2 separate regions of the Homo sapiens genome follow, and region 1 is linked to region 2. Evidence: fine-mapped expression QTL. Tissue or cell type: lung. Region 2 holds a variant in brackets; the other region holds the start of a gene. All regions are shown on one strand. Distances are from middle to middle. Region 1 holds the start of FBLL1 (fibrillarin like 1). Region 2 overlaps RARS1 (arginyl-tRNA synthetase 1).

The links. PIP is the estimated chance that this variant, and not a neighbour inherited with it, causes the effect. A credible set is the group of variants that fine-mapping cannot tell apart.
Region 1: it holds the start of FBLL1, and the variant in region 2 is the best candidate, but not a certain one, in a credible set for the expression of FBLL1 in lung (GTEx, PIP 0.53).

Annotation. Positions count from the first base shown.
Region 1 is chr5:168,527,973-168,530,992 of GRCh38, reverse strand. It overlaps FBLL1 (fibrillarin like 1), which reads right to left and starts at 1,688. Exons shown (of 1, transcript NM_001355274.2): 1 at 359-1,688. The coding sequence starts at 1,488. The coding sequence ends at 484. RefSeq lists an enhancer at 840-1,381 and a silencer at 2,235-2,529.
Region 2 is chr5:168,506,658-168,509,157 of GRCh38, reverse strand. It overlaps RARS1 (arginyl-tRNA synthetase 1), which reads right to left. Exons shown (of 15, transcript NM_002887.4): 11 at 2,327-2,436. Among named protein-coding and RNA genes, the nearest start is that of FBLL1, 21 kb to the left of the region's middle. RefSeq lists an enhancer at 1,050-1,219. The variant T/C (reference allele first, on the strand shown) is at 1,302.

The DNA of each region.
Region 1 (3,020 bases), 22 kb before region 2:
GAGTCAGATGATTGGTGTGTTTGACTATATTATTGTCCACCAACATTCAGTGTTTTTCCCGAGTCAGGCTGGGTCATGTGACTTGGCCAAATGTGAGCAGAAGTGCCCCATCAGTTCCAAGGGGACATTTAAAAGCTTTTATTAGCAATTCCGCAGCTCTCTTTCCTCTGCCCTAGGGATGGGGGGAGCATGTGTGAAAATGGGGCCCTGGGGAGTTGGAGACCTGAGTGATTAGAATGAGCACAGCTCCCAGGCTACTGCTGGATGGGCCCCTTATACCAGCCGGTTTAGGCCACTGGGATTTGGGGGTTGATTGTTACTGCAGCAAAACCTAGCCTGGCATCACCATACAGATAGGTGCCGTTTCTTTATGCAGTTTAATAGAAAAACAACAAAACAAAACACTCACAAAGAAAACACACAGAAAATAATAGCAAACACAACGCAGCCTTGGGGAGATGGCAGGCGAGCCTGAGCTGGGTGCTATTTGCTGCTGCTCTTGGGAAGAGGTCGGTAGACCCCGACCACCACAGCGTGGTCCCGCTCATAGGGCTCCAGGGTCAGCTGCTCTTGAGGCTTCAAGTTCTCCTGCTGCAACTTCCTCACCTCAGAAGCAAACACAGCCTCGGCGGATGCGGTGGAGTCGATGCAGTTGGCCTTGATGGAGATGAGAAAGTGGCCCCCATTGCGCAGGAAGGTGTGGGCGTTCAGGGCCACGATGCGGGACTGGTCCGGCTGGGCCACGTCGGCGAAGATCACGTCCACCATCCCGATGAGCATGCGGTACTTGAGCGGGTGCCGCGCGTCCTCCAGGACCGGAATGATGTTGGTGCGCTTCTTGGCCACGTTGACCAGATCGCGGCCGGCGCGGTGGGAGAACTCGACGGCGTAGACCAGGCCGTCTGGGCCAATGATGTCGGAGACATGGGAGACGGTGGTGCCCGACGCGGCGCCCAGGTACAGCACCTTGGACTTGGGCTTGATGTGGATCTGGTCCACCCCGCCCAGGATGGCCGCGGCCAGCTTAGAGCGGAACGGGTTCCACGTGCGGTACTCCTGCTTCACGCCGCCCTCGGTCACCGTGACGCGCCTCTCGCCGTACACAGACTGGCCCGGCACCATGTTCAGCGTGACCAGCGCGTCCTCCGCCCCGCGGTAGATGAAGACGCCCTCGTGCCGGTGCGGCTCCACCGACACCACCATGGCGCCCTTCCTGCGGCGGCTCTTGCTCTTGGCCACGCCGCCCCGCCGCTGTCCACCGCCGCCGCGATCCTTGCCGTCGCCGCCGCCGCGCCCCCGGCCCCGGCCGCCCCCGCCGAAGCCGCGCGCCCGCGCCCCGAAGCCGCCCTTGCCCCCCTGGCCGCCGCCGTCGCCCCCGCCGCCCTTGCCCGCGCCGCCGCCGCCGCCTCGGCCCCCGCCCCAGCTGCCCCAGCCGCCGCCCCCGCGGCCGCCCCCACCGCCCCCGCGCGAGCTCGCGGCCGACTTCATGGCACGCACCGGGGCGGGTGCCGTGGGTTACCGGTGCCTCGGGGCGGGTGTCAGGGGGCTCTGGTGGCTCTGGGTGGTCGTCCCGGCGGTTGTCCGCGGGTTTAGCAGCGGAGGCGGGCGGCGGGCGGCGGGCGGCGGGGGCAGGACGGGCTCTACCGCAGTGCCCGCATCCCGGAGCCGCCCCTTGACGCAGCGGCTGTGGCGCGATTGCATCACACCCGTCCCCGCGACCCTGCGGCCCGGAAGCCCCGCTTCCCAGCCCGCGTGCAGACGCAGCCTGCTCCTCTTCGCTCACCCTGCCCCTTCCCCATCTCCCGCCTTCCCAGGGATCCCTGGCACTTCCCTGGGCCACAGGGACGGGGGCGTCTCTGCTGCAGGAGAGGGGGAGGTAAGCATCAGCGTCGGTCCTGGCTGTGCCACCAGTTCTGGGACTATTGATCAGCAAGGAAGTGTTGTTGATTCTTCAGTGTGAATGGGGATACACAGAGAGCCAAAATGTCATGTTCATCCTCGAAGTCTAGTCTATGCTTCAAAGTCACTCTCTAAATCTGCAGCATTTTCTTGAGGAAAGAAAGAAAAAGAGAAAAAGAAAGAAAGAGAGAGAAAGAAAAGAGAGAGAGGGAGAGGAGAAGAAAAGAAAAGAATAATTGGGCAGCACCAAGGGCAGCAACGAGAAGAAAAGAAAAAAAGAAAAGAACAGAAAGAAAATAAAAGAATAACTCGGCACCACCAATGGCCCCAAGGCCGCAACGCAGAGGCTTTAGGGTTTAGTCAGCACCAGGGACAGCGACAGCAGTTGGGGCCCCCGTTTTGGCTACTGCTAGGGGCTTTGGGAACCACACAAGAGCTGGGGAAAGTAGGATAGGTGGTGAAACAACTGGCCAGCCTCCCGTTAGTTGAATTAAGTGTCTACTCGAGAGAGAGAGAGAGAGAGACAACGCGCACCTGAAGATCGGAGCATTTACTGAACACCTGGTATGTGCAGTATGACTTCCGTTCCATCCTGGACCACAGCTCTTCCCGTCTCATACTCATGGACGACAGTGCCAGGTCTGATTTTCCCTGAGGACTGGAGTGTCTCCTTAATGGGGACCAGAGTTTTATACACTGGAATGTGAACAAGGGATCAGTGAGTGAAATGTATGATTCCTGAGGTTGAATGGTTCACATAAAATACTCTACTTAGAGGTTTCCATTCTTGCTATAAGGTGAATATTTTCCAAAATGATGAACTACACTTGGTGTCTGTGAGGGTTAATTTTATGTGTCAACTTTACTGGGCCATGGGATGCCCAGATATTTGGTCAAATAGTATTCTGAGTGTTTCTGTGAGGGTGTTTTTTGATGAGATTAACATTTAAATTGGTATATTGAGTAAAGCTGATTGCCGTCTACGATGTGGCTGGGCCTCATCTAATCAGTTGAAGGCAGAAATAAAGCAAAATGCTGACCTTCCCCACGGAAGAGAGAATTCTCCTGCCCAAGGGCCTTTCAACTGGCACATCAGCTCTTTCTGCCTGACAACCTTTGGA
Region 2 (2,500 bases):
ATGCTAAAGGAAACCTTCCTTAATCTACTTTGCAATTACTGTTCCTTTCAGTTACTCCCTACCTGCGCCTGCCATGAATTTTTGTTTTTGTGTTGGTCTATTCTGACTAGTGGCTCTACAATGAGGGATGCGTATCTGAATACCGAGAGCTTTAAAAAAAAAACAGATGCCTAATACCCCCTTTAGACCTAATAAGTCAGTAACTCCCACAGTGGGGCTTGCATGTGTATTTTCACAAGCTCCACAGGAAACTGCTCTGCTCTAGATGATAGCCTCTTTCAGAGAGGAGCTCATGTTCCGTGTACCTGCATATACACATTGTGGAGCATCCAACCAACACCATGCACAGCACATCCTCAATAAACAGATGTACAAGGAATAGCAGGAAGATGATGAAATTAAAAAAAAATTATCATTCAAAAAATTAAAACAGAAAATGTCATTTAAAAATAGAATCTGTGAGCATTAAAGAAAACAAACCTTTTTCTTAAGTCCCATCCCCCTCTGTGAGAATTTTTTTTTTTTTTTTTTTTTTTTTGAGACAGAGTCTTGCTCTGTCGCCCACGCTGGAGTGCAGTAGCACAATCTCAGCTCACTGCAAGCTCCGCCTCCCGGGTTTACACCATTCTCCTGCCTCAGCCTCCCGAGTAACTGGGACTACAGGCGCCCACCACCACGCCCAACTAATTTTTGTACTTTTAGTAGAGACGGGGTTTCACCATGTTGGCCAGGCTGGTCTCAAATCCTCACCTCGTGATCCACCTGCCTCGGCCTCCCAAAGTGCTGGGATTACAGGTGTGAGACACTGTGCCTGGCCCAAAATTTAAAAAATAAAAAAAAAAAAGGCGGGTGGGATAGGATACTATAACTACATGCTGCTGAGTGCAGAAAAATTTTAAAAATTATCAAGAATCCTTTAGCCATTATATGACAAGTGAATTAAATGCCATAATAGGAGCACTAGTAATTTTAAGCAAGTGTCAGAATATCATCTAAATGTCCAAAAAACCAACCGTTAAGAAACTAAGATACTATTAAGTAATGATCAACTTACTGGTTTGTTTTAAAAAACTTTATGTCCATAAACACTATAATAAGGACTTAGTGTCTTCTTAGTTATTCTTTTTGTTTTTGAGACACAGTCTCACTCTGTCACCCAGGCTGGAGCCCAGTGATATGATCTCGCCTCACTGTAACTTCCACGTCGATGCTCAAGTAATCCTTAGCTGGGATTACAGGTGCATGCCACTATGCCTGGCTAAGTTTTTTTTTTTTTTTTTGGCAGATATGGGGTTTCACCA[T/C]GTTGCCCAGTTTGGTCTTAAACTCCTAGGCTCACACAATCCTCCAGCATTGGCTTCCTAAAGTGCTGGAATTACAGGCGTGAGAGCCACTTTGCCTAGCCCCTAGTGTCTTTTGATTTCAAAAAAGCGCAGATCCACGGAGAAGAAACGCAATTAGAAAATGTTGTTCCCAACAAGGTCTTTGAGCTCCACATAATCTGTATCTAAGATAATACCTTAACACATCTCATCTGCCTTTTACATGTTCAATTAGGGCTTCTGCGCATTGGCTGGCCAAACATCTTGAGCTACTTCATGTGGTTTTTTAGAAGCATGACCACGTTTGTAGGATGGAAATATTTAGGCTTTGTTACCAAATCTAAGATGCCACAGATTTTTGGTAAGTGATCCTAAGACACCAGTGAATACAGGAGGTTACAACATGAAAAATGCTGTGCCTTTGAATTGAGGAATACTGTATGGAAACACGGTTGTATTTACCTTTTTATTTTATAAATATTGAGAATATAAAAAAATTAGAAAATAGAAAAGCTGAAAGTATGAATATTAAAATACATAGTTCTCAATAAACAATATTTTTGGAGAGAACATAACAAAACCAGTGAATCTTAAAACTTAATTGGAATCTCAATAACTTATACCTTTTGCCTATGTTCAACTTTGAAGGAAAAAACAAAAACATTTATCAAATGCATAAGCTATATTGTTGAATAGTGTCTGAAATCTGAGCAGGTACTGTAATAGATTTTATAATTTAGATTTGTGGGAGAGGAAACCCCTTATATATAATCTATTAGGTCTACAGTCTGGTTTTCACTAAACTTTGTACATACTATCTACCTAAAAGGCTACATTCCCTGGCAGTGATGATATAGATACAAAATCACTCAGCTGGGTTTACACCATTATAGCTTATGTGGACTAAAGGAAACTGTGGACTTTCTTAATTCTAATATGGTATCAAATGAAAAGTAGCCTCTTGGGATCAAGTATATCATTACCATCTTCAGATTTTCCAGACTTACTTGTCTTCCCCTAGCACCACACCAAATCCAGCATGGAAGACTCGAGTTACTTTAGGGTCATACCAACCAATCATTTGAGCAGCAGCAAATATTGTCTGGAAGTGCACAGACTACAACAGAAACGGAAAGTTACTTGCTAGTCTTCTTTAAAGAAAAAAAAAAAGACTTAAGGCT